Linked DNA regions of Homo sapiens. The protein of the gene in region 4 purifies or fractionates together with the protein of the main gene of each other region. This does not show direct contact. Each region holds a gene or a part of one and is shown on either strand. Other genes may lie near its edges.

What was found.
Region 1: the proteins of CSNK2A3 (region 4) and OSBPL8 purify together in Homo sapiens (affinity purification with mass spectrometry; 2 studies listed by BioGRID and IntAct, with this or other methods). This does not show direct contact.
Region 2: the proteins of CSNK2A3 (region 4) and GRAMD1B purify together in Homo sapiens (affinity purification with mass spectrometry; 2 studies listed by BioGRID and IntAct, with this or other methods). This does not show direct contact.
Region 3: the proteins of CSNK2A3 (region 4) and HIRIP3 purify together in Homo sapiens (affinity purification with mass spectrometry; 2 studies listed by BioGRID and IntAct, with this or other methods). This does not show direct contact.

What each region holds. Positions count from the first base shown.
Region 1 is NC_000012.12:76,556,770-76,564,618, forward strand, and holds the start of OSBPL8 (oxysterol-binding protein-related protein 8), read right to left. Parts: upstream 3,003-7,849; 5' UTR 2,628-3,002; intron 2,240-2,627; exon of another isoform or gene 1,803-2,239; coding exon of another isoform or gene 1,801-1,802; intron 1-1,800. UniProt on the Homo sapiens protein: Lipid transporter involved in lipid countertransport between the endoplasmic reticulum and the plasma membrane: specifically exchanges phosphatidylserine with phosphatidylinositol 4-phosphate (PI4P), delivering phosphatidylserine to the plasma membrane in exchange for PI4P, which is degraded by the SAC1/SACM1L phosphatase in the endoplasmic reticulum.
Region 2 is NC_000011.10:123,601,255-123,608,278, forward strand, and holds part of GRAMD1B (protein Aster-B), read left to right. Parts: intron 1-2,171; coding exon 2,172-2,287; intron 2,288-4,067; coding exon 4,068-4,224; intron 4,225-5,354; coding exon 5,355-5,544; intron 5,545-7,024. UniProt on the Homo sapiens protein: Cholesterol transporter that mediates non-vesicular transport of cholesterol from the plasma membrane (PM) to the endoplasmic reticulum (ER).
Region 3 is NC_000016.10:29,992,594-29,999,668, forward strand, and holds the start of HIRIP3 (HIRA-interacting protein 3), read right to left. Parts: upstream 3,025-7,075; 5' UTR 3,013-3,024; coding exon 2,948-3,012; intron 2,871-2,947; coding exon 2,750-2,870; intron 2,625-2,749; coding exon 2,510-2,624; intron 2,251-2,509; coding exon 1,313-2,250; intron 1,216-1,312; coding exon 1,047-1,215; intron 965-1,046; coding exon 866-964; intron 778-865; coding exon 614-777; 3' UTR 1-613. Other genes in the region: INO80E (INO80 complex subunit E), read left to right, coding at 3,718-3,798, 3,954-4,024, 4,215-4,267. UniProt on the Homo sapiens protein: Histone chaperone that carries a H2A-H2B histone complex and facilitates its deposition onto chromatin.
Region 4 is NC_000011.10:11,351,436-11,357,841, forward strand, and holds CSNK2A3 (casein kinase II subunit alpha 3), read right to left. Parts: upstream 1,816-6,406; 5' UTR 1,685-1,815; coding exon 509-1,684; 3' UTR 507-508; downstream 1-506. UniProt on the Homo sapiens protein: Probable catalytic subunit of a constitutively active serine/threonine-protein kinase complex that phosphorylates a large number of substrates containing acidic residues C-terminal to the phosphorylated serine or threonine.

The DNA.
Region 1 (7,849 bases), on a different chromosome or scaffold from region 4:
TCTCCTGCCTCAGCCTCCCAAGTAGCTGGGATTACAGGCACACACTGCCACGCCCAGCTAATTTTTTTGTATTTTTAGTAGAGACGGGGTTTCACCATGTTGGCCAGGCGGGTCTTGAACTTCTGACCTCATGATCTGCCCACCTCAGCCTCCCAAAGTGCTAGCATTACAGGCGTGAGCCACCGGGCCTGGCCTCTCAAAGGCTTTTTTATTCAAGTTGTGTTTCTGTCTTATTTGCAGGTCATTATTTGTAAGATTAAGGCAGGACCTATGTCCTCTTTGAATTGCCTGATGCTCCAAGAACATTGCTATAAATGTTTTTAACTTTCAATATAATACAAACATTACAACATGACATTTCAGGCATTGTTATTAGGATAATATTAGGATAAAAGTTTTCCAAATTAATATTAGAAAACTAGATCTATGTACTGTATCAATTCTTTGTCTTTAATGCCTTAATTCAAGTAATCTACTTTTGAAGGATTATTTACAAACCAAAGCCAAGTTGAAATGTACTAACACTGGTTAAAATTCTGCAATTCATACTTTTAAACAAAAGATCCGCCAGACACAGTGGCTCATGACTGTAATCCCAGCACTTTGGGAGGCTGAGGCGGGCGGATCTTGAGGCCAGGAGTTGGAGACCAGCCTGGCCAACATGGTGAAACCCCATCTCTAATAAAAATACAAAAATTAGCCTGGCATGGTGGCACGCACCTGTAATCCCAGCTACTCAGGAGGCTGAAGCATAAGAATCTCTTGAACCCAGGTGGCAGAAGCTGCAGTGAGCCAAGTTGCACCACTGCACTCCAGCCTGGGATACAGAGTGAGACAGTCTTAAAAAAAAAAAAAAAAAAAATCCTTTTGTAATGCATATTTTACAAATTCATAATTTCATCATTTTTCTTAAAGCAAACTAAAACATAAATTCATTATACACAATTGTAAATTTATCCCCAAAGTGTTTTCTAAGGCTTCCAATTTTTAAATGAACCAAGGAACTGAATATTGACAAATGTATAAGTACCCTGAATGTGTTATAAAAAACATATTTGACTGTCTTTAAAATGCAGTAACATTCTAAGGAAAATACAGTAGCATCTTTCCACAGATCAGAGATTCAATAACTATTATGATTCAATCAAAGAGAAATAAACCATGGCCATTTTTAATTAAACAGGCATTTCTAAGCACCTGTGTACACGGTATTGCTGTTCAAACGGTTGACATGGAATGTGACCGCAATAACTTGATGTCCATAATTAAAGACCCAAAAGGTAGCTTAAGTTTCATCTATTTCCTTTCTCAGCCCTTTGAGCAGGTATATTATAGTCACTCCATACACGGTTAATATTAAAAAAAAATAAAAGTAACAAACATTTGAAATTAGTTGTACTTTTATAGAGAACAGTTTTAAATTGCATGGCCTTACTTTTCCTATTCCAACCTATTTTATAAAACTAGCATGATCTTAATAATTTCACTGCAAAACAGGTTCTAGCAAGCATAGAAACTGATCATAGCCTCTCAGCAAAATCAAGTTTAGATGAAACTCTAGGAAATTAGCAAAATTTAACAATCAATTCACCCACGATTCTCCACAATTCTTGCTCTCTCTAGATACGAAGGGAGGCAAAAACTGTTTTAAAGGATTATTTCAAAAGCAGCACTAATTTTGGGAAAAACTTAACTGCCATGCAGGAGACACTGTATTACTACTCAGACGTCATTTAAGTCTTCTAGCAGCAGAAAGGCAAAAACATCATTAAATTTTTTATTTAATGCATATATACTTACATTATCAGTTAAAGTTTACCCATCTGTTTACGTTGTCCAAGTTACCTATTATTTCAGAAAGCATTTAAATAAAATGAAATTAGGTTACGTTCTGCAACGCAGATGTGTCTCATAAAGAAGAGTGTTAAATGACTTTTGTGAATGGAAAATCTGCATATACTGTTGCTTCGCCTCAGCCAGTCTTGAGTGGGTGGTTCAATGAACCTAAAGCATGCTGCCTGTGAAGCTCCTTGGAACCTGATTCCACTCTTGAGAGAGGGCTTAGAAACAAACATTAAATTTAAAAGCACAGCAAAGGCTTGGCTTTCCTCCTACGTTACAAGAAGGCCGGGAGAACTGAGGCTTAGAGGAACAACACCGTGTCGCTTGGCTCTGCAAAGGCGGGTGCGGTCTGCGGTGCGCGGCACAGCCTTCTCTGGGGCTGTCACAGGAAAGAAGGAGCCTCGCCTTAACCGCACCGAGCGACAAAGCGCCAGCTCTCCTGGGCGCGGGGGCTCCCAACGAGGCCCATGCCATCAACCTATCAAACTTCAGGAGGGACAGACACCCGGGGCGGTCGAAATGCTCCAACAGCCTCCCACCCCCGTTCCCCTGCCGCGGCTTTTGTAAGGCTGCAGATGCACCTACTGTGGGCCCCTAAACACTCCACCCTGCCAGCCTTTCCAATCCCCCTACTCCAAAAGGGAACAAAGGAGCCAAAGAACTCCTCGGCGGGGGTGGCCAGGAGTCCCCGACAGCCCGAGCTCAGAACGTGGCAATAAGGGTGCGCAGTCGCCCTGAGGGGTGCGAACCCAGCACCCCAACCTCAGGAATGGAGCAACACTCACCCGTGCGGAGCTCCCAGGGAGGCGGGACGCAAGGAGCCGGTTCCTCCGAGGTCGCCGCGGCGCCGGGGTCCGAGGCCCCGTAAGCGTCTAGTCAGACCCCAACTTCTCTCGGCCGCTGTCGTCGGCGGCAGCTGGGGCGCGAGCCTGGACGAAGGGCGCTGCCCAGCGGCCGCGGAGGCACTGCCGGCTCAGCCCCCGAGCGGGGCGGGAACTTTCGGCCCCGAGGTCCACCAGCCCGGGCGGACCCCCACCTTCCCTCAGTCGGCTTGCTACCGGCAGCGGCTACTGCGGCGTCCAAAGCTAACACTACAGCCGCCGCCTGGCCAGGAGCGCGTCGCGGCCTAATGTTGTCATCCGCCGCGTCGCCGCCTTTCTGGGCACCCAGAACCGCGAAGATCCTTCACATTCTAGTGCCCTCCCCCTGCCCCGCCCGCCCCCCGGATCACGGGCTTCGGCCACGCCCTCTTCCCGTCACGTGACGGTGCGCGGAGGCGGTGGTGGAGTTGCTTCCCCTGCTAGGCGGGCTCGAACCGGGCGGGAGTCACTGTCCACCTTGCTTCGCCAGGGTGTTATCGCCAGCCAGTCCCCTTCCGCATGCCCAAGGGCAGCCTCAGGAAGCGAGCCCACCACCGTCGGCCCAGCGCCTGTTGATCGGCCAGGCCTTCTGGGCCGGTCATACTGGGCCCTTCCTAACCTGAGGAGATTGCACAGTAGGGCTCCCTGGTCTGGTCAGGGCTCAGTTAGGACCCCTCTCCAGCCTTAGGCTTGGTGAAAGCTTTAGCGAAACAGAAAAAAGAACGCATCGTGGTGTAGAGTGTATGGCCTAAGAAGCATTCGGTAACTAAACTACTTGTTCCTATTTCTAGTGGCACATTAACCGTGGCATTTAATTTACTGCTTTCCTCATTAGAGGTTTTTTTTTTTTTGAGGAAACGGTGTATTTCAATCATGCTGGGATGAAAACAGCCTAGCAAACTTATTTTTGTTCCTTGTTATGTTCAGGATCCTGCTGCCAGTTTTACAGTCATTAAGTTTTACAGTGTGTTAGGTTGGTGACAGTTTAAACGGGTACGCAGGAATTTGACAGTTTGTTCCATTTTTTAAAATAAAGCCTAATTCTTGATTTTTTTTCTAATGCCTTAATTTTTTTTTCCTAATTCCTTAACTCTAGGACTTAACCTTTTGCTTTCTTTTTTAGCCATGATCCGAAGAACCCTCTAGCCGCCTAATGAAATCCTAACTATACAGAAGTAAGGGAGGTAGAATAAAGATCATACTCAAACCCTGATCACAATGAAGGCAAATGAGAAAGCTTTCTGTAATAATTAAATTGGGGTCATAACTCATTTTCCCTTGTAGCCCAGAACTAAGGATTTTTTTCTTAAGCTATTCTCATCTCATTACATTTTCTTAACAAGAAATCAGAAGGCATTCTGATAAGCTGGATACATTGAAATGAATAAGCAATAGAGTTTGGCCTATATAATTATTATTAATATATTTCATAGCAGCTCTAAAAAAATCATAGACTTACATTGTTTTATGTTACCCAAGAAAGAAAACAAAGGCTGCCAATGAAACTATGCCATACCGCTGATATGTAAGGCACCTTTAAGCCACATCTTTTTCCTTTTTTTTTTGAGACAGGGTCTCACTCTGTCTCCCAGACTGGAGTGCAGAGGCGCAATCTCGGCCCACTGCAATTTCCGCCTCCCGGTTCAAGCGATTCTCCTCCCTTAGCCTCCCAAGGAGCTGAGATTACAGGCATGCGCCACCATGCCCAGCTAATTTTTGTATTTTTAGTAGAGAGGAGGTTTCACCATTTTGGCAAGGCTGGTGTTGAACTCGTGACCTCAAATGATTCACCCGCCTCGACCTCCCAAAATGCTGGGATTACAGGCATGAGCCACCGCGCCCGGCCTGAGACACATCTTGAATTCAGAGATGTAAACATGTCAGAAACAACGAGTCTTAGAATCTCTGAGATATTGTCATGAACTGGGAAACAACGAGTCTTAGAATCTCTGAGATATTGTCATGAACTGGGAAACAACGAGTCTTAGAATCTCTGAGATATTGTCATGAACTGGTGTTCCAAAGAGGAAAAGATTCTACCAGGTTCTGTTCTGAAGCCTGAGAGACTGTAGTACAAATAAATGTGAAGGAAGTTTATTATTCTGTGACATTATTTCAGCAAAGCTAGTAACTTTGGAGTTTGTTAACAGATTAACTTGTCTCCTGTTTTCTAGAGGCATGTTTTTCAACCTGCAACTCAAAAATCAATTTCATTTTTATATGAAATAGGCTAGGATGTAATACAATATAAAATACCAGAGTGCATAATGTCTAGTAAGGGCAAAAATTGCTTCCTGAAACTTTTTGTTTCAAATATGGTGGAAGGTGAGAGTATGTCCTATGTTGTGATTTAAACAATTTCTTACTGTGAGTTGCAATCAAATAGATTTGGAAAAGAATGTTCCTAGAGCATAGATAATATGCAAAATACACCATCTGGACCCCGTTTTTCTGGTACTTTTATTTTACTTTGGAAACTGAGACTAAAGATTAGAAAAAGGTGGCAAATTGCCTTGCCTAATTCTCTTCTGCCTCAGCCCCAATTTCATACATTGGCTTTTGAAAATTTGATCATTTGTTGGAAAAAGCAATGTACTGGAAGCAAGGAAGCCTAGGTTACAGACTTAGCTAATGAGATGTATGACTAGATAAATTACTCCCTGCATTTCAAGTTCCAATCAAGTAGGACCACATGCTGTTTGAGAAATGATACTAAACCACCTTTTTTTTTTCCCGGTGGATGGCAATCACATTGGAAACAAACAGACACGGTATACTCAGGATTATGCAAATTACTGACAGCCTACGTTTAACTTCTTTCAGCTCCACTCAAAAAAAAGAAAGTCCTAATGCAAGTAATTGAAAGTGAAGATATTGCAAAACAAATGTAAGTATATCTTTCACAATCTTCTCTACTTTGATTATCACTAGTATAATAGTTACTTGTCATGAATAACTAATGATTTTGACATACTTAACAACTGATTGCAACACAAAAATATATTAATCCACTACAGTTGAAAAATCATTTTTTCAGATCCTTTCAAATCTGATATTGTGATTCCAGGAATGATAATTCAATCTAGCATTTTCAATGTAATGACAACATAAACAGAAACTAATATGTGATCCTGCACTGTAACTGAAAAATATTCAGTAACTCCCAGAGATGCCCTGCAAGTTTGCTACTCTTACAATGATTTTAAGAATGACATTTTGAAATAAAGCTTTTTTATTATAACGATCCGATTTTAACTCCAATGAGAATTCATCTCTTTTGCCTACTGCTTTATTAATTATACATTTCTAAGAATGGGAAGTTCTTTCCAAATTAGTTTAAGCACTGACAGGCTTGACAGCCTTTCCCACAGTATATTTCAACCCTGACCTAGAATGACAGAGATGTTGCTTGAGGTTGTTTGCTTTTTTCCATTTGGCTTATCCCATTAGACAATTATGTTGCTGACAATTACTAATCAGGATTCTAGACTAAAATCCTCATTTTCTGGAAGAGAATTTAGATTAAGAGCAACCTCAGCCATAAATAAGGTATTCAACACAGCTTTGAAGACTTGTATTCTTGTTGGTCATGTGATTTGCTTTAGCCAGTGCTTTGTGAGCAGATGTTAAATGCTAAATCAAAGCAGAGGCTTTAAATTTGATTGCAAAATTCAGGTCAATCTCTTACTCTTGTGCCACCTGCCATGAGAAAGGTATGTTCCAGATAAGATCTCAGAATAAGAAAATAGATGGAGCAGACCTGAAACTCTCACCCTGTACAGAACTGAAGCAACTGACTTGCAGCTCCTGACATACGGCTACTGATGTGAAACAAGAGTAAAACAAAAATATTTGTTGTTGTGAATCACAAATATTTTTGAGATTGTTTGTTGCGTAGCATAATCTTGCAAATCATCTAAAGTGAATTTGAGCCAACAAACTCATGAGTCAAAGGCTAAATGTACTGTGGAACAATAATATTTGTCTATTTAATAAAATAAATAACAGACATCTACAAACTAGTCAACCAGCTATTTGGTAAATATCCACCTAAAATTTATGTTAAGAAGCAGTCTTTATAAAATCTGTAAATTTGCATGCAAAATGTTTGCATGTAAGATATTTACATACTGATTTTAAATATTTCTGTTTAGTATTATTTGTCTTAAATATCCCTTGAGGAAAATTTGGATAGTAAAGTATAAAGAGAATATAGGATTCTGTTTCTAGAAATATCAAGGACTAGTTCACACTTGTCACACTGAAAACAAAATCCCTGGAAAAAACATTTTTTAAATCTTATTAAATATATTGATTAACTGACAATAGGGTAAGAAATTATTAAGTTAAAAAACTAAATGAAGGCAGGAACCTAGAGTTTAGCAGAGTCAGCCAACTTTTATCTCAAGGGCATGTGCTAAACCCAGTTACTAGGAGCATTGGTTTTCGTGACCTTGTAAGAAAGACACAAAACCCATTACCTGCATTATACACACACACACACACACACACACACACACACACACACAAACAACTGCAATTCCAAGGATTATTAATTTGATGTAAGGATATACTAGAAATAAACTTGCTGCTTACTAGCATAGGCACCCATCCCCCAGAATCTACAAAGAAAATTAGCCGTCTTAAACCTTGGCACCTGGTGGACAGGGGAAAAGCAAAATCGTATCTGAGAATTTGGAACTGCAATCCAATTCTCACACAAAAACGTAGCTTGAATTCATACTAGCTGGGTGGTCCCCAAAAACTTCAGGCTAATAATTAAGATTTTTTTTTTTTTTTTTTTTTAGACAGGGATTCTCTGTCGCCCTGGCTGGAGTGCAGTGGCATGATCTCAGCTCACTGCAACCTCCGCCTCCCAGGTTCAAGCAATTCTCCTGCCTCACCCTCCCGAGTAGCTGGGACTACAGGCACGTGCCACCACGCCCAGCTAATTTTTTTATTTTTAGTAGAGACAGGGGTTTCACCATGTTGGCTAGGCTGGTCTCGAACTCCTGACCTCGGGTAATCCGCCCACCTCCGCCTCCCAAAGTGCTGGGATTATAGGCATGAGCCACTGTACCTAGGCGTAATTATGAATTTTTGACTGATAATGCTCTCAGAAACCTGGCAGAAGCAAATACCAATCC
Region 2 (7,024 bases), about 110 Mb from region 4:
CACCACGAATTGACTAGTTGAGTGTTTAAATGAAACTATGAAGAGACACAGATGAAGCCACCCCTTCATGCAGTGAGCTGTGATTGCGCCACTGCATTCCAGCCTGGATGACAGAGCAAGACCCTGTTTCAATTAAAAAAAAAAAAAGTTCCCACTCAGATGCAGTTGGATGTTGAGAAACTGTCTCCAAGCCAGAGAAAGAGATGTAGGAGAAAACGCACCGACACACACACATAATGTTTCCCCCAGGATTAATTTTTATGTGTGTGTGTGTGTGTGTGTGTGTGTGTGTATGATTGACATGGGTGTATTTAAATATATACATATATTGGCCTTGACTCTAGCCCAAACAAATGGCTGCATAAGAAAATTGAGTGGATTTATTATTTAGAGTTTCTTCTCTTCTGAGAGTCTGTACCCCTAGTATCACTCCTGATAACTTATTTGAGCTGTGGTCCTCTGCCTTCACTTGCCATCAGTAATAGTAAAATGATTATGTGTTTTAGTCTCTACTGGCAGGTTTGAGTTTTCAGTTCACAGCTGCTGTCATTTTTAAGTAAGACACAGGGTCATTCATATGCTTCGCAAATGCCCTCACAAATAATTGTAAGAATTGGGCCTGCCGAGGAGAGTCTGCTAACTGTGCTTGTCCTGATCGTGGTTGGCCAAGCCAAGCCAGGTGGCGCTGGTCAGAGAAGTCTGCAGAGAGCAAGCAAAGGGTGGAGCAGGGCAGTATATGGTTTGGCAGAGAGGCAGATGTGTCCCAGGCAGGGTGAATGTTGTCCCAGGCAGGGTGGATGTTGCACATAAAGGCCAGAGATAGGAGGGGGAGGTCCAGGAGAGAAGGAGGTGATACCTCCCTCAGGCACTATGAGGTCCAGCATAGAGAGCTGCGGCCCCCAACTCTGCCAGCCTAGAGTCAGGGCCCCAAATCTGCCATTCCAGGCACTTCTCCTTAGTCAGAAAGCTGGAATCCTAGCTCATTGTACTCTGCCAGCTGCCTGCTTCTTAAACCATACCTGAAACTGTGGGCTTGGGAGCTCTCAAATTATTATTATTATTATTATTGTTATTTTTACTCCCAATGGAATATTGTTCAATTTTTATTTTTTATATTTTTAAATTTTTTTATTATACTTTAAGTTTTAGGGTACATGTGCACAACGTGCAGGTTAGTTCTATGTGTATACATGTGCCATGTTGGTGTGCTGCACCCAAATTCTTTAGGAAGTCTATCGGTGCAAACATTTTTGAAATGGGATTTTTTTTTTTAAAGATAATGATTGCTTCTGTTTTTCTTCATGCCCTTGCCCTCCTTTCCACACACTTATCCCTGCCACCTTCTCCCCTTCCTCCCAGTCTGAGACTCATTCATGGTCTCTGCCTCTGATCTTAGTTCTTTGACATCCCTTTGCCTCTCTCTGGAGACTCTGAACCCAATGAGAACAAACTTTTCTTAGAACAGTGTTTTTTTGGGAGGACACATAGGCACCCGGTGAAATAAGAAAACACTGGAACTAATGCATAGAACTGCAGGCAAACAGATTCCACCTCAGGTTGGGTAGTCACACGCTTAGGTGAGATGACCTGTAAGGTTCCTAAAACTGTGGGAACGTAAGACTCTACCCATAGGAACTGTCCAGCTATGGAATGGGCCACCTTTGAGGTCGAACCTCATTCTTGGAAGTGATCCAGTAGGGTCTGTAAGGCCACAGTTAATACAAGAGGAGATTTCTGTGCAGTGTGGTGGGGCACCGGGTCAGGGGACCTCTGGGCATTCATTCAGAGTGCTAATCAGAAGCTCTGGGATCCCCTTGGCCCCAGAGTCACATGGGTTTATGCCACTCAGTGCTGGACCTTTTCCATAAGAGCAAAAGGTGAGACAGTTACCATCCTCTGGGAGCCAGTTGGTCACGTTCTACAAACCTCTGTTGAGGGATTGGGCACTGAAAGGCCAGTTCCTGGCTTTGTTAAAGTCCACATTCCTAGGCAGAAGACTGGTGTCCTGCTGAGACCCCCAAGGCAGATGGGGGTGGTGGCTCGCCTCTCATTCAGCTAAGGAGAGAGGAGTTTCTCCTCTTCTCCAGGGGAACCAGCCCGGCTCAGTGCCTCTGTGCAGAGTCGGGGGACCTGAGGGAGCAAGGCTCAGTCGTTCCTTTTCTCCCCTGAAGCCTCTGTGTCCCAAGGAGCTCTGGCACTTTGTTCACCAGTGCTATGGGAACGAATTGGGCCTGACCAGTGATGACGAGGACTACGTGCCCCCTGACGACGACTTCAACACAATGGGGTGAGTGAGGCCAAGGGCGGCTGCCCAGAGGCAGCCGTGCGAGTGCCTGCAGGAAGAACCTGCCAGGCAGAGGGAACAGCACACATGCCTGTGCAGCCATGGAATGAACTGTGGAATGAAGGAGGGAAAGTGGTCACAGGTGAGGTCAGGGAGCTCGAGGGGGCAGAGCCTAAGGGCCTGGCCATCTTTATGGTTGGCTTTTACTGAGAGTGGGATGGGAAAGTTTGGCAAAGATAATTGCTAAGGTCTGATTTAACATTTCAGCAGGATCACTCTGGTCTTTGCACTGAAAATACATTAAAGGGGAACCAGGGCAGAGGCAGGGAAACCCGTGAAGAGGCTGGTGAGTAATTTAGATAGTTAGATGAGGGATGGTGGTTGTTTGGAGAAGTGGCAATAAGTGTTTAGTTCCTGAATAGATTTTGAAGGATATGTTGATGGAACAGAAAGGAACCAAAGGTGGCTTTCAGATTTTTTCGGTTTTACTGCCCAGAAGGATGGCATTGTTCCAAACGGAGATGGACAGTACTGTAGGCAAAGCAGGTTTCAGGGGAAAGATCAGGAGGGTAGTTTTAGGCAAGTTGAAATTGAGATGCCTGTTAGCTAAATGGAGATGCCAAGTGGGCATTTAGATATGGAGTGTGGAGTGCACAGGGAAGCCTGGGCTGAGGCCATAAACGCAGCAATTATTAGTGGATAGTCATGAGACTAGCTGAAATTTCAAGTGACTCGGTGAACCTAAAAAGGAGTTCAAGGACTGCCTGGGAGCACTCAGTGAGGGAAAGAAGCAGCTGAAGAGAGCTTGAAAGCACATGCAGTGAGGGAGGAAGGCCCTAGGAAGGTTTCCTATCCTGGCAGCCACGGGAAGGAAGTGAAGCAGAAGGTATTGTCACTGTATCACATGCTGTCGATAGGTTAAGCAAGATGGGAAGATGTGCCTGTAGACTGGCACAAAGCATGCTTGAGGGTGGAAGGGTAGCTAGCTGCAAGCTTGGTGGTCGTGCAAGAGGCATACAGGGAAAAAAGCAAGAAAAGAACATTGAATGTCTGTTGTGCTTAGGTCTGGGCTCAGTCGAAATAATAGTGTTGTCGCTTAACCTCTATGAATACCCATTTGGTTATCTCCAAAATGCACATAAGGATTTCCGGAGAGTTGTCAAGCATCTGGATTTGTTAAGTACAGGTCAGATGATGGTGATGATGATAGGCTGATGATTGCTCCCTTAGAGGAGGCTACAGCGGCATCCCTGAAGTGTTCCTCGACGAGCACCCACCTTCATCTCAAGGAGGTTTTCTTTCTAGGTGTATAATGCAGGGAAGTTTTCTAGTTATCATCAAGAATTTGGGCAATGCCACTTAAGGAGCGCTCATGTCCAGAGTCCTGTCTTCGTCACCGTTTGGGAAAGGAAATGCATGCTCAGAACCCAGATATTTGATTCAGAGGCTTCAAATAGGATGGGCACCCATGGAAAAAAAATAGCTTAAGACAAATAATCCTTTCAGTTAGGTAGGGATAACTCTAAGGAGGCTGCCTAGGAAAGGTGAGTTTGCAGCCAGGAATTTTACATGGGGGGCAGGGAGGGGTGGGGTGGGATATGAAGGAGATTTCAGAAGAGCAATGGGGTAGGCAGGGGATTTTTGGTTAGAGGAAGATCATACACAAAGCAAAGAAGCAGGAAATCTCATAGATATGGATGGATAGAAAGGTCTGAGATTCTTAGAATAGTTGGCCATCTTGAACCACTGAGGGTAATGTGGACTCACTGGTGTCTCCTCTCAGATACTGTGAAGAGATCCCTGTGGAAGAGAATGAAGTGAATGACAGCTCATCCAAGAGCAGCATAGAGACCAAGCCAGATGCCAGTCCACAGCTGCCCAAGAAATCCATCACCAACAGCACACTAACATCCACAGGGAGCAGTGAGGCCCCCGTCTCGGTATGGGCAGTCAGCCTTTGACTTCTACCCCCAGTCCTGTGGCCAGCGTTTCCTAGCATAGTTCACTGGGAACCCAATCTGGGGAGCAGGTAGAGAGGAGATTGGTTACATTGTTGTCAGTTTCTTCAAGGAGGCATTCTGGAGCAGATGGGCTCTCCGTATTCTAGTGGCATAGCCCGGGGTCCAGAGCTGGGGCTAGGTGCCTGGGGTACAAGACTGGGTTTGACTTCTGAGCAGATGAAAACCATTTCAAGCCCACTGTGCTGGGCTGCTGCTGATCAGCCCTTCTGGTAGAGAACAATTCCAGGTATTTTTTCACTGCCTTGATCTGACGTCAAAGTCATGCATGAATATAGAACTATAGAACAATTAATTGTTTATCCACTCATTTGGTTGATATTTGTTGAGTATACGTATTGTGGCTTATTTCTCCACTGTGGTAGACTTTATGGAAGCCATAAAAATGTGTAAGAGAACCTCTGTCCTGTGGGACTCTGTTAATAGAGGAGGTAGAACCTTGATGAGGAAAGAGGGTCAGGGCATGTGCTGGCAGGCAGAAGAACAGGTAGGGTTCTTCAGGAAAGGACTCCCTCAAAGAGCCTTGTATTTCAGTAGGCTATGGATCAGACCACCTGCCTTCAGAATGAAAACATTATTCATTGGATACCTGGTCTTTATTTTCCATCTCTGAGGTTATCTTTAAAATGTAAAGAGTTGTATCGATTCCCTTCCAGGGCTAATGAGAGAATGAGTTTTAAAAAATGCTTATGAAGCCTTTCGAGCTTCTTAGGATAAACAGGTACTACCTGGAGGCAGGCTGACCTTGTTGCAGGATGGTGCAGGTGCGGCTCCAGGAAAGGGCCTGGGCCTGTGGGGACCAGCTCTGTGCATTTGGGGAGCTTGTTGTGCTGTTGGAATGGCGAGCGTGAGAAGTGCAGTAGTCCTTGTACTGTGTTTGCCCATCCTCTGTGGCAGCTCTGGGGAAGGGCTTTGGAGCCTGACTCTGACTTCGCTCCTGAGCAGCTGAGCTGGGAGTATGAGAGCTGCCAAGGCTGCATCCCTAATCTCCCTTTGGAGAATAGATCCAGACCAGGTTTCCCTGGTGGGTGACTCCTCTGTCTTGGCTCCAGTTTGATGGGCTGCCCCTGGAGGAAGAGGCGCTGGAGGGAGACGGGTCCCTGGAAAAGGAGCTCGCCATTGACAACATCATGGGGGAGAAGATTGAGATGATCGCTCCTGTGAACTCCCCTTCACTGGACTTCAATGACAATGAGGACATCCCCACTGAGCTCAGTGACTCTTCCGACACACACGATGAAGGTGGGCATTTGAAAATGGGTCTGGAGTGGCCCTTGCTCTGTTTTGAAGGCTAAAAGGAGATCTCTATGTGGGGACTGTAGTTAGTCTCTAGGTTCCTGGTGGAGAGATGGGAGCAGAGCTTCCTTAACAAAAGGTACCTGTTATTAGTTTACATCCCTGTTTTCAGTCATTTGCTGTAGGAGCCTCCCATAGATAATGCTTTGTTCTGTCATTTAGTCTTGTCACTAAATGTTCCCCCTATTGACATTGGCTTGCCTTGCGACCCTGACCCTCACAGACACGCAAGTCTAGGCAATGTTTATAAGCCACAAGGAAGGTGCCAGTCAGCTGCTCCCTGGAAATAATTAGATTTTAACAGAAACGTCCTCAAGATAGCTGCGAAACTTGTTAATGCAATTTTTGCTGCATGGGGTATTTAGGCCCAGCTAGAAGAAAAGGTGTTGCTGGGTCAAATAGGGTTTGGAGACTCCCTTGTTTCTCTAATTTTTGTAAGCAGGTAGCTTCTAACTTCATGCCTGCATAGGATTAGCTTCTAGAACCTCCCTTGGGAACATGCTGCTGCTTACCTTCCATGGAGAGAAGCCAAATTCTCAGCATTCATGAAATCAATTGATGGATTTCCTCCATTGAGTGAGTGGTCTGTTATGACTGGTGAGCATATGAGCACGGTGCTCACTTGTGGATCTGTGGACACCTCTCCCAGGGGCCACCTGCAGTGGTTTTCTAACTTTTGGTTGGTTTACCCACCCCCATCTAGAGTCCAGGGTTGGCACAAGTGACTGCATGGGTTAGATACTGCCTAACTCCAGGGTGCCTTTCACATAAACTAAGGTGTGAATACCCGCTGCGCTGCACTTGTGCAGTACCCATCTGTGCAGTCATAGGACTTGACCCCTACAGGGTACTTCAGAGTTCTCTGGTTTCCTCAGGGTCCTAGGGGTGCCAGAAATGGCAGCCTCCTCCTGAGATCACATACCCACCCATGCAGGTGCAGTAATTAGGGACTGAGGGGTGCCAAGGGTTCGGGGGGGAGCACTGAGGCTTTAGCAGCTCTCCTGTATCCTCATTTGCATCCTCCTGTAGCAGCTGGAAAATTCAGATTACAGGTGAAATTCCCTGGCTGGCAATCTTCTGTATATGGACACAGTGATGTGCCAGAAGGGCTTTGCATCCCTGAGACTGAAGGAAGCTCCATTTTTGGAGCCCTCCCACACCTTGCTCTGTGTGCCTCTCATTCTGATTTGAATTCTTATTTTGCTATATGATGAAGCTGTAATCCTAAGTTTAAAAAGGGGAGTAGGTATTGACATCATGGTAGAAATAGGCTGTCTTATGGAACTGTAGTTAGGGATCACAGCCTATTGGACCAGCCCCAGCCTTAGCAGCAGTTCTGTACACTGATTCTTCCAGATTAGTCTACGTTCCCTCGAACAGACCTATGCCATGGGTTACAACTACAATTTGTTGTCGATTAGAGTTA
Region 3 (7,075 bases), on a different chromosome or scaffold from region 4:
AGCCAGAGGCCTAGAGGGCTAGGACTGGCCCAGGAGGTATGGGCTTTTCCCCACCCCTTTGAGGCTAACAGCCCATGGACAAAGTGGCTGTTTGCATAAGGGAGAAGGCTTAAGCACTGGCTGCCCTCAAGTCATTCTATCCCTCTCCCAAGTGGGCATTAGGTTATCAGACTAGGCTAAAAGCAGAGGGGCCACGGGGTAGGCGGGCAGCACAGGAGCCACACACCCTTCTCCAAAAGGGTCTGGTGGCTGTTGGATGACAGGGTCTGGAGGCAGGGACTTCTTCCAGGAACCCGGGGGAAATTAAAGGGAACCAGGCCAGGGGAGGAGGTGGAGGCAGTGACTACTGCTCAGTTTCCTGGCCCAAAATACAGGAGGTGAGAATGGGGGACCAAATTTGATGAGGTGATTAAAAACACTCCTTTATTGAGTCTTAAAAAATAAACACCTTAAAGGGACAGCGTGAAGCTGAGAAGTAGCATCCCAACAGCTTGTGTCCTTGGGAGCTGCAGTCTTCTCTGAAGGAAGCTGCTTCTGTTCCACAGACACAGGGCAAGGGGTGCTATGTATGCTTTGTACATGTATCAAGGGTCCCTCCTGGGGGTGGCAGAGCTCAGTTACTCTCGCCATCACTGCTGATGATGCCACGCATATGTGACCAGTCTGGGGGTGCGGGACGGGGCCGCTCTTCATCTGAGTCCAGGGTCCGTCGGTACAGCTCCCCTGGGGGTGCTGCTTCTCCTAAAGGGTTCCAGGCTGTACGTCTGCGTGGCCGGCCTAGGGGAAAGGGGAAACGAGAGATCAGATGTCTGAGAAGGTCCAACCCCACCTATCTGCTCCTGGGCAGTGAGAGGAAACCCCTTACCCGAGCCACTGATGATGTTCGCAACATCCAAGGAGGCCACCTCAGCTGCCTCCTCCCTCTGCTCCTTCAGGGCCCGACACTTCCCTAGGGAAGGGGTACCTGGGGCAGAAGAAGCTGGTGATTCTCTCCTCCCCAGCAGGAAGGCCCTCTCCTGCAGCCCCCAGGGCACGCCGGGCCTCACCCTTCATGCCTAGCGCTTCCAGTTCTGCCCGGAGGATACTCAGGCGCTCCTTGTGTGAGCAACAGGAGCCCAACAGCTTCTTGTAGTTTCGATGGGCACCACAGGCCCGAATGTAGCGCTTCAGCCTCATCACAGCCGGGTGGTCCTCTCCACGGCGACCTGAGCCAGCCTAGCAAGGAAAGAGCAGCTGAAGGCCAAGCCTGCTGGGCCTGAGGCAGGGTCTCCCTCTTCCCTAATAGTGGCCTCCCACCCCTCCTCACCCTCACCTTCCCTCCTTTGGCCTCTGGACTTCCATCTGAGGAGGAAGAGGAGCTTCGTGTCCTGCCTTTCCTGGAGCTCTTCTTGGAAGAGCGGTTCTTCCTCTCCCCCTGGGGGCCTCCCCCTGCCTCGCTGTCACTTACCTCCCTCTCCAAGTCACTTTCCTCACCACTGGTGCTGCCCAGTCTGGCCATCTTTCTAGAGCCTTTAGCTGTGGGTTCCCCCTTCCCACTGTCTTCCTCGTCCTCGCTGCTTCCACTCAACCTCTTCCCACCCTTAAGCTGGGTCCTGTCCTCACTCTTCCTCTGCACTGGGGGTTCTCTATCTCTCCCACTGTCATCCCCACTGCTGGCTGCCTCTTTCTGCTCTTCCTCGCTGTCTGAGTCTCCCAAGAGCCTCTTTGCCTGGCTTTTCTGCTTACAGCTCCTCTCCTCCCTAGCTGACTTTCTCCGGCCATTGCTCCTGGTTCTGGGTTTCCAATCCCCCTTTTCCTCATCCTCTTCTTTCTCTTCCTCCTCCACTTCCTCCTCTCTCTGCTCTTTCTTCTGGGCTAGGATCTCCTCTTCACTCTCCTGTTCACTTTCCTTCAGGCTTTTAGTTCCTTTATTTCCCTCCACCTTCTTTGCTGTCCTCTGAACGGGTTCTGCCTCGCTCTCCTCACTTTCTTCCCTGGCCTGCTTCCTACTGACTGAGGCCTTGCCTGGTGCCTGCTTCTTTACCACAGGTTTCTTCCTAGTCTTCCCCTTGTACCCCTTTTCCTCCTCCTCACTGCTCTCCTCTCCCCTCTGTGCGGGCAGGTCCCTCTGCCGTTCCTCATCACTGCTCTCCTCAACTGCCTTTGAGGCTCGCCTTGGATTCTCCTCTTTGGCTGGGCTGACTTCTGCTGCCACCCCATTCTTTGCTGGGGGTCCAAAGTAGTCTGGGCTGGAGGCTTCAGAGCCGGACTCTGGAATATGGAGAGGAGAGAGGGTTGAGACAGGCTCCTCCTGTCCCTTCTCCCTTCACTTCGGATAGGTTGCCTCGAGCCCTGCCCTGACAGTTGGAGGGGCAGCAGGAAACAGCTATCTGTACTTGCTGTTCCCGGTTCCTGACTCACTAGCCTTGCTCCCTCATCTAACGCCTGGGGACATAAGAGATGCGCAGTGAATGCTTCTTGAGTGAACCAACGATGCAGAAGGCCCCCACAGCAGGGAGGAAGCACTAACCCGACTCTGAATTGAAGCGGAACCTTTTTCTCTCCGGGTCGCTACAAGGGGTGGGAGGCCTCTTGCCCTTCTTGGTAAGGTCCAGTTTGTCTTCCCTGGAAGCGGCTTCATCCACCTGTGTGTGCGCCAAGAGGGCAAACTATGCACCAAGGCTGCGCTCACCGCGCCCCGTCAGGCCCCTCCTCCTCAGCAGCAAGCCCCGCCTCCGCCTCCCGCGGCCCAGGCTCCGGCCCGGCACACCTGCATCTTCAGCAGCTCCTCCTCCACCAGCCGCTTCAGTGCCTGCTTCTCCTCGGGCTCCAGGTGGCTGCGGCCCGAGTGAGCTAAGTACCTCCGCCGCACGATGGAATGCGTAAGCGTGCTGCAGGGACATGGTGTCAGGACGGAGTCCCGACCCACCCGCGCCCTTTCCAACCCCATCTCCAACCCCCTGGGCACCTGAGGTCCGGGCGGCCTCGGAAGAAGCTACGGGTGAACTCCTGCATCTCCTTCTCCCGCGCCATTTTGCTCAACCCGGGATTGACGGCTCCCGCCTTTTTTTCTTCTCGGCCTCCGTCAGCGCGTTTGACAGCGGCTCGCGCACGCGCAGTGCTGCGGCAACGTGGGGCGAGGGACCGTTGGCCCTTGGCCGCGGACCGCGTGGGCCGAGAACTTTGCCAGACGAGACTTGTTTTCTCTGGGCAGTTGGAGGGTCTCGCGGCTCCTACCCTTTTTTGGAACGGATCATTTTAAAAGTTCTCGTTAGAAACCAATTCGGCGCCGGCACCCTTTGGGTGAAACCTAATCAGCCCGCGACGCTGCCTTTCTCACTGGTCACGGGCAACAGCTAGGCTGCTGTTATTTCGCAAGGCAGAAGAGAAAAGGCATCCTCGCGAGCAGATGAGGAACCTCGGGGATAAATCCTTTTGTGGCTTCAAGTGTCTAAGTACATTAGAGTCAGGAACGGCGCTTTCCAGCGTCCGCCATTTTTGTGGCGTCACCGCGTCGCTGCTACGCCATCCCCAGCGCAGTGGCTGCCGCGCTCCTGTCCCAGTGTCCCCCGGGAGGTCGGCCCGTGCGGTGACGCCCCTGAGCGCGGGGTACGCCGGGAGTTGTAGTCCTGACGGCACAGCCTTGCAGCGTCTCCGGAAGTGGAGGCGGGAGCGGCACGGCAGCCACTGCTTGGGGTAGCGGGAGGGCAGACTCTGGGCGCCACTCCCGGGCCGGTCATGAACGGGCCGGCGGACGGCGAAGTGGACTACAAAAAAAAATACCGGAATCTGAAGCGGAAGCTCAAGTTCCTCATCTACGTGAGTGCTGCCGCGGGAAGGCTGTGGGGGATGAGGCCTGGCGCGGACAAGATCTCAGTTTACCCAGGTGTAAAGTGGGTGGGGCGAGCGGCCGCTGGTTCCGGGGCCCTTCACGGAGGACCGTTGGCCCAGCGCACCCCTTGCCCGTGATACAGGAGCACGAGTGCTTCCAGGAGGAGCTGAGGAAAGCGCAAAGGAAATTACTGAAGGTGTCCCGGGACAAGAGGTGAGGCACGTTGCAGGGGCGGAGGGCGATGTGCTTCCTAGGAAATCTACATTCGGACCCCATCCCCGAGTAGGGCCACAAGTGCATGGGCTCTTTCAAGTATCCGATGGGCCAGCTGGGAGGGACAGGTACCCAGGAGGACATTGCTGCGCTGGAAAATCACTGTCCGTGTCTCCTTCCCTCCCCTCAGTTTCCTCCTAGACCGACTTCTGCAGTACGAGAACGTGGATGAAGACTCTTCGGGTGAGCAAGGTCTTCAAAAATTGGTGGAGAGCATGGTTCCTGGTACTTAGCAAGCTTCCTGGGCCCCCGCCTTTTAGGCAGTGGTGGCTGATGCAGCCCCCAGTGGTCCTTAAGCCTAGTTGCTTGCCTTCCACCTCCACCGTTCTTTCATTCAGGCACTTACTGAGCACCTATTGTGTTTCAGGCACTGTGCTTGGCACAGGGGATACAGCAGAGGCAGAGATAGGCAAAGCCCTTGGCCTCTTGTAATTTATATTCTAGTTGGGAAGAATAAGTAAATGAAGACAATAGACTAGAATTTTAGGTCATAGGAAGGACTTGAAGGTAATGAAAACAGTTATGCGGTAATGATTATAGTAGAACAGGGGTTGATGAATTGTTTCTGCAAAGGGCCAGATGGTAAGTAAGCTTTTTGCAACATACAATCTTTGAAGCACCTACTGAACTCTGCCATTGTAGTAGCAGCCGTACCCCATAGGCAAATACATGAGTATGGCTATGTTTCTATAAAACTTTATAGGCACTGAAATTTGAATTTCATATTTTTCCATATGAAAAATTTTTCTTTAGTTTTTTTTTTTTCCAACCGTTTAAAAGCTTAAAAGCCATTCTTGGCCAGGTGCAGTGGCCCACGCCTGTAATCCCAACACTTTGGGAGGCCGAGGTGGGCGGATCACAAGGTCGGGAGTTCAAGACCAGCCTGACCAACATGGTGAAACCTCGTCTCTACTAAAGATACAAAAATTAGTCGGGTGTGGTGGCGTGCACCTGTAATCCCAGCTACTGGGGAGGCTGAGGCAGGAGAATCATTTGAACCCTGGAGGCAGAGGTTGCAGTGAGCCGAGATCGCTGCCACTGCATTCCAGCCTGGGTGACAGGGCGAGACTCCGTCTCAAAAAAAAAAAAAAACGCCCTTCTTAGCTTGCAGACCACACAAGCAGGCAGCAGGCAACCTCTGAATGGAGTACTCAAGAAAGGCCTTTCACAGAGTGACATTTGAGTTGGGACCAGAGAAGAAACCAGCCTTCCATCCTGGGCAACATAGTGAGACCCCATCTCAATTAAAAAAAAATTAGCCATGTATAGTGGTGTATACATGTGGTCCCAGCTACTTGGGAGGCAGAACCAGGAGGATCCCTTGCCTGAAAGGTCAAGGCTGCAGTGAGCCATGATAGCACCGCTGTGCTCCAGCCTGGGTGACAGAGCAAGACTGTCTCAAAAGAAAGAAACCCCATCCTGGCTAACACAGTGAAACCCTGTCTCTACTAAAAATACAAAAAGTTAGCCGGGGATGTTGGTGGGCACCTGTAGTCCCAGTTACTCGGGAGGCTGAGGCAGAAGAATGGCGTGAACCTGGGAGGTGGAGCTTGCAGTGAGCTGAGATTGCACTACTGCAGTCCAGCCTGGGCAACAGAGCCAGACTCCATCTCAAAAAAAAAAAAAAAACAAAAACCAATCTTGTGAAGAAGTGGGCTAGAGCTGTCCCGGCAGAATAATATAAATGCAGCTACCCTGAGGTAAGAACAGGTCAGGCTTGGTTGAAGAGCAGAGGCATGAAAGAGAGAGAACACTGTTTTCGTCCTTTTATTTGAATATTGTCTGCAGTTAACTATATTTTACATCATAACCAGGGCCCCACATGTTAAACAAAACAAAGTTTAACGAAACATTTTTAAGATCACTGTATCCAATTCATCCTGACACTTTTTAGACTGCTTTTTTCCCCTTCTTTTAATGCTGGTTGCAAACCAATAAATTGATTTCATGACCCACTAATGGCTTGAGACCCACAGTTTGAAAAAGCCCTAAGGTAGGCATTTGTGGGCCTCTTCCTGGGTGAGGCCCTCGTAAGCCATGTCACGTAGAATCACCTCTCTCCGTGGTGCCTTTAAACATTGGTCTGGGCCGGGCACGGTGGCTCACGCTTGTAATCCCAGCACTTTGGGAGGCCGAGGCAGGCAGATCACGAGGTCAGGAGATCGAGACCGTCCTGGCTAACATGGTGAAACCCCGTCTCTACTAAAAATACATAAAATTAGCTGGGTGTGGTGGCGGGCGCCTGTAGTCCCAGCTACTCAGGAGGCTGAGGCAGAAGAATGGTGTGAACCCGGGAGGCGGAGCTTGCAGTGAGCCGAGATTACGCCACTGCACTCCAGCCTGGGCAACAGAGCAAGACTCCGTCTCAAAAAAAAAAAAAAGCACATTGGTCTGAGGCAGGGATTGGCATGTGGCAGCCAGCCACGTTTTAGGACGTAGTGTTTTGTCAGAACGCATGATACCCATTTGCTTGTTATTATAGGAGGATTGTAGATAAGGTTGGGGAAATAGGCAGGGGCCCACTCAGGTAGGTCATAGTAGGAGATTTGGCTTTTATTGTAGCCTCTCATCCCCTGCCTCTTCCTTCCCTAGGGGCTTCCAGTTAACATCCTGTTTGAGGGGAATTCAGGGCAGGAGGTGGGAGAGAACCCAGCATGTTCATGGCCAGAGTGGGTTGCATCTGAGGAGGAAGAGCCAGCGATGCGAGCCCCACTCCCGTCCTGGAGGCCCACGCCCTGGCCAGGGAGACACTCGCAAACGACGCTTTTCAGCACAGTGTGAGGGCAGCCATGACGAGAGTAGAGCGTTCCAGGAGAGCCTGCAGTTAACTGGGCTTGAGGGATTCTGGAAGACTTCACAGAGGAGGTGGCATTTAATCTGCTTCTTAAAGGGTCTGTCTGAGCAGAGACATTGGTAACGGCTTCTATAGGTGTAGCAGTCGTTTGTTCGATGAAAGATGGCCCTTCTAGGCAGAGGCACTGAACTAGGAAA
Region 4 (6,406 bases):
AGGGCTGCAGCCAGACTCTTCCAACCCTTGTAAGGGGACACAAAATCTAGAAGGATCTGACCCTCACAGCTTCCCGATGCACAAGGCTGGGAAGGTAAGCTAGTTCAAGTCCAGGCATATCTATGGAACCAAAACCCTATAGAAGCCCCAAACTCAGAGACAGAAGTATTAGCAAGTTCCAAATCAGGGTCCCATTGACACCTGCGCTATCTACTGTAATCACTTCTTTGTTTTGAAATAGGATCTCTGGCCCCCATTACTGTCACTGGTGCTGCCAGAGAATGACAATGAGCTTAAATGTCATAGGGATTTGGGGAGCAATTTTCTTTTTTTTTTTTTTCAGCCTATTATAATTTTTTTTTATGACTGAACTACTATAAATCCACAAGCAACGGTTCAGACACGTTGCTTCTGAAGTGTTTCACCCCTCCCCGCCAGGCGCAAGCTGCATCAAGGAGGGGGTGGACTCCCCCACCTCTGCTCAGGCATCAGGAGACAGATAGGGCCGTTACTGCTGAGCGCCAGTGGCAGCTGGAACAGGCATCCCAAGGGGGTTGGCAGCAGCAATCACTGGTGAGCCTGCCAGAGGTCCAAGGGGTGAAGGAGTTGGCACTGAAGAAATCCCTGACATCACATTGGCGCTGCTGACGGGCGTACTGCCCCCTGGCATGCTAGATGAACCCATTCGAGCCTGGTCCTTCACAACAGTGTAGAAATAGGGGTGCTCCATGGCCTCTCTTGCAGTAAGCCGTGACTGGTGGTCATATCGCAGCAGTTTGTCCAGGAAATCCAAGGCCTCAGGGCTGACAAGGTGCTGATTTTCACTGTGGACAAAGCGTTCCCATCGCTTTCGAGAGTGTCTGCCCAAGATATCATTGAAACGTGGATCTAATTCAATGTTGTATTTGTCAATATAGCCATATAAATCTTCTGTCCCCAGAAACTTGGCTATCCTCACCAACTGATCATAATTGTCACGTCCATGGAAAAATGGCTCCTTCCGAAAGATCATACTTGCCAGCATACAACCCAATCTCCACATATCCAAACTATAATCGTACATCTGATAGTCTACAAGTAGCTCAGGACCTTTGAAGTATCGGGAAGCAACTCGGACATTATATTCTTGGCCAGGATGATAAAACTCAGCCAAACCCCAGTCTATTAGTCGTAGCTTTCTGTGCTCATGATCAATCATGACATTATGGGGCTTGACATCTCTGTGCATAATTCCCATGCTGTGACAATAATCCAGGGCCTTCAGAATCTCATACATGTAAAATCGAATATCATAGTCTGTTAACGTCTGGTACAATTGCTTGAAGTCTGTGTTGTTTACGTGTTCAAAAACCAAGGCGGGGGTTCGTGACACAGGGTCTTTTACAATGTCTGCCAGTGTGATGATGTTGGGACCTCCTCTCAAATTCTCCAAAATCTTTATTTCACGCTTAATTTTCTTCTTTTTTACTGGCTTGAGAATTTTAACAACAACTTTTTCATTATTTGTGATGTTGATGGCTTCAAATACTTCACTGTATTTACCTCGGCCTAATTTTCGAACCAGCTGGTAGTCATCTTGATTTCCCCATTCCACCACATGTGACTCGTAATCCCAGTATTCTCGAGGTCTGTGTGTATTAACATCTGTGTAAACTCTGGCCCTGCTTGGCACGGGTCCCGACATGTCAGACAGGTTGGCGGACAAAGCTGGACTTGATGTTTGGAGATCTGGCAGTCACTGTGTTCAGAAGCAGCTTGGGGGTAAGACCTTGTTTCAGACCTGTTTTCTTCACACTGTGGTGGAAGCGGCAGCGGCTGTGGCCGCTCTCCCTTCTGCTCACACAGACAATATGGCGGCGATGGAGTGGGGAGCAATTTTCTAAAATCCAAATAAAAACCTTCCCATCTCTAATCTGAGAGTCATTTTTATCAGCTAACTGGGCTCATCTATTTACTCAGCATATTCAGAGCCCTTTTTGGGGGTTAAGTCCCTTTCAATTGCTGTGAGGCACCGTCTCCTTGTGGACATGCTTGTGCTATCCAGCTGCTATTCAAAGCACATCTCCTGGACCATGTTTAATTTATACTTTCCTATATGAAGATGAACCACTTACTCACTTAAAGTATTTCTTTTTTTATGTCTCTAATCAGTGGCTGTTTCTTTCCTCTCTCTGAAGCTTAATCGAATCAGAAACAAATCCCACACATATGAATGGCTCATTAGCATGTCCCAGTCAGATTCAAATTGGCCGTCCATACCAGATGCCCCCAAAAGGATAACACTGGCCCAAAGAAGGACTCTTTAAACGAGTGTCCAAAGGGTGTTGCCATGATAAGCCAGGAGGGTTCTTTCTGAAATCCAGGGTAGATACACTCTGTCATTCCCAGCACCATAGAGCCAACTGATGGCAGGTAATGGATGTGTCATTGAGATGGGGTTGGTGGGAGGCAATGTGGCCAAGCCTGGGGAGCAGACATCAGAGGAATGTCTGGTGTCTATGTGTCTGGCTCAAGCATCATCCTCACACTTGGCTCAGTGGGGCCCTTTTATCAAATGATACAAATGAGGCTGAGATGCTGAACATTCTCTCGCTCAGAAATGATATTTGTTCTAAAGAGCTTCCCCTCTTAATCAAATGAAACTCAGATTATAAACACTGGTATGCTACATCTTCTCTTAAAGGATTTGCTCTTTTCATAGACATCAGAATGAATCGTCAGCATGGGCATCATCACTGGTGTCATCTCTGAAAGTCACCGATAGCAAACTCTCATTTAATACAGATTTACAAAAGAGATCAGCATACTGCAATAGAGTAGAACTGAAGGGAACCTAACCAGGACCTCCCTTCATTTCCCAGGTGAGCAAACTAAGGTTCAGGGTCACAGGATAATTTAGAAGCACAGTAAGATATGGATCCAAGAGCCTGCCTTTTGGAAGACAGGAAGTCATTATGGTTCAGAGCATAGCCTCTGGGGCCAAACAGTCTTGGTGTCAAGTCCTACATTTCCCATTTGCTGAACTGGTGACTTTAGGCAATTCACTTCACCTTCCAACACTCAGTTTCCTTGTCTATGAAATGGAGATAAAAGTGATAAATTCCAAAGATAGTTGCTGTGAGAATTAAATGAAGTAATACACAGAGACAGTTTATTTCATCACCTGGAAGAAGTTTAGAGGCCCCTAAGTATCAGCTATAATTATTATCACTATAATATTCCACTGATGATAAGATTCACTATTGCTATACCACAGCTTTTCGGGACAGGGGAAAACACACTACATTCCTCTGAGCTCAAGATTTATATACCCAAGTGCCTACGTCTCACCTTCACTCTCATGTGTCTCAGGCATCTCAACCTTACCATGTCCAAAACGAAGTTCCCGATTTTCTTCCCTGCCTCCCCATCTGTCCCTTAGTCTGCCCCTCATCCATCTAATAGCCGAAGCCTGTAACCTGTAATTCATCTGTAGCAATGTCTTCTTCCTCCCTCTCCACATCCAATACATCGGCAAAAGCAGACAGTTCTACCTCCTAAATATAGCTTGAATTTAATCACTTCTCTCCATCTGCACAGCCAACATCCTGGTCCAAGTCCCTATTATTTTTGTGTGGGCATCTCCATCCAGAGCCTCTTCCCTGGTCTTTCTGCGTTGTCGTGTTGCCCTTCAATCCGTATTGCCCTCCAATCCACTTTTTAAAATTATACATCAGAGCATGTCCCTCCTCTGCTTTAATGCAGTTCAGCAATTATTTACTGAGCACTTACTATGTGCCAGTCTTTGTTGTAGGAGATGGGAATCTTACCACAGAACAAAATATAAAAAATCCCTGACTTTCTGATACTTACACTGTGTTTTTTCTGTTACAGCACTCCCTATGGACTGAATTGTCTCCCCCTTCCTCAAATTCATATGCTGAGGCTGTAACTCCCCATGTGACTATATTGGAGATGGGGCATTTAAGGAGGTGATTAAACATGCACAAAAAATTCTCAGTAGAATGACCATATGTTCTGGTTTGCTGGGGACTATTCTGGTTTATACCTAGTGTTCCACTGTTATTAGTAGCACCCCCTTTCACTCGCAAAAGCTTCTAGTTTGGACAGTAAATTAAAATTTATTTACATATTTATTATTTATTTATATATGCCAAATGTATAAGGTCCAACCTGATTTTAGAAACACTGAAATCCCAAATAAGTATCTGTCTTAAAATCATGGTCTTACTAATCTTTTCCCTCCCCTAGTCCATGATTTCTCTATATTACTACAATCCTAGTGTGGTGAAAATTAAGCAAGTCATCAAGACCCTCACCTCCTGATGTGCAGCATTTGAAGCAGGCCTGAGGAATAAAACAGAGCACCCCACCATTCAGTGCTCCAGAGACCAGAGCCCTGTCTCTTGAACTTTCCCAAACTAGACAGACAGAAAGAGAGAGAGGCAAGACCTAAAGGAGTGAATGGTGTTCCTGGGCCATTTACACCAGGGGTTAACTCTTTATTTTCAGGACTGACTTTGTATACAGGTAGGCTTTGTTTTATAGAAAAACTTGTGTGCAGGGGTAATTTCTGGATACCAAACTTTATAGAAAAACTTGTGTGTAAGGGTAATTTCTGGATACCAGCACCTACAGCACTAGAAAAAAATGTGCTCACAGGTACCCTGCCCTTTGCATTGCTTTACAAAGCCAAGAACATTTGTATTTGGAGATGCCCCTGACCCCTCCTTCTGCAACTTCAGATTTATGAATATCGGATCTTGTCCAAGGAAAACCACAGCAGTGTCAGAGGAGGAGGAGAAGGAACCCTTGCTCAGTTTGTGGCAGTTCTTCTGAGGAAATGATTCTGGCCTTGCTTGGTGGTCTCTTCCAGGAAAACTAGAATAACAATGTAATGGTGGCCAAGAAGCTACCTTCCAGGGTCTGATACCGACCAGCATGCAGACTCAGCTAAAGAAGAACAAAGAACAAAAATGGAAACAAAAGGGAGACAGAAAATGACTCTGGGGAGCTTTAACATACATTGTGAGCTTCCAGGTTTCTTTGGCTTTTGTTTTTGCTTTTTTCCAAAATTCAGGAAATTAAACATTGATACATGACTATTATCAAATCCCCAGTCTATAATCAAAGTTCACCAATTGTCCCAATCAAAGCCTTTATAGCTATTTTTCCCCTTCATCCAAACTTTTTAAGAAGGTAAAAATTTCCTTCAGGTTGACTCCCCAAATCCTTCATCAATTGTTACCTCGTTTGTGCATGTTATTAATCTCTCTTTTATACAGCTCCCTCATTGAATGCAATTGAAAAAACCAAAGTGTGAAGACCATTCCTGAGTAAAATTGTTCTTGGGCACTCTCCTTCTGCTCCCCACCATTTCTAGCTAATCACTTCATTATGTACTTTTTAAATTGCTTTGTTCTGTAGGGATTAATTTTGCACTTATCTTCACTAACCATAAAACTTTTACAACGTACTTTTAAACTGCGTCTACTCAGCTGCTGGTTTGTAATTGCAAAGAGTCACTCCACGGCTGGCTGGTGTGCTAGGGGATAACACGCAATAGCCACGGAGCTTCCTGCTCCATGTTTTCAGATGCCTTCCTGGAGCCGCTGGGTATGGGGCAGACCAATTGGTTCTAGACTGGCTGCTTGGGGTACCGAAATGTCCTTGTATATGGAAATCACCAGCTAGGGAACACCCTCAAATCGCAGATGCTTTGGCCTCAGAGGCCTCAGGTTGCTCCGACCTCAAAGACCTTGGGAATTTCAGGCCCTACAGTTCCCAGGAGAAGGTCTGTCTACAGCTGACCACCTAGAAGGCAACAAAATTTCAACTACTCTCTCAAGGTCAAGTCTGTACTTTCTCAAGGCTCAGGCACTTGCCCTCTGCCTGCAAGCAGGCACTAGATTCCCAGTCTTCAAGGAGTCCCTCTGCCTCCCTTTCTGGTCAAATACAATCTCCAAGGAGTCCCTCTGCCTCCCTTTCTGGTCAAATACAATCTCTAAACTCTCCGCCTTCCATCAATCTCCACCCACTCCCTCCTTAGACCTTTGAAATCTGTCTTCTATCACTTCCCCTTGACTCCAACTATTCCCCCCAAAGCCTTCTTATGGCTGTGTCTAATGCCTTTTCTCCACTTGCTTTCTCAGAGCACAGGCTGTTGGTTCACAGGCTTTGGACAGAACTGTGTTTAAATCCAGGCTCCTCCACTTTTTCTCTTGGGACCAGGGCAAGTTCCTTAACTTCTCTGAGCCTCAGTGGCCTCATCTGTAAACCGGTGACAGTAATTCTGGTTTCCTGTGATTCTTGGGAGGGGTAAATGACATACAGCATAAAACTCACTAGAATATAAGTTCTATGAGGGCAAACCTAAGTTATCTCATTCATCACTGCATATCCAGTG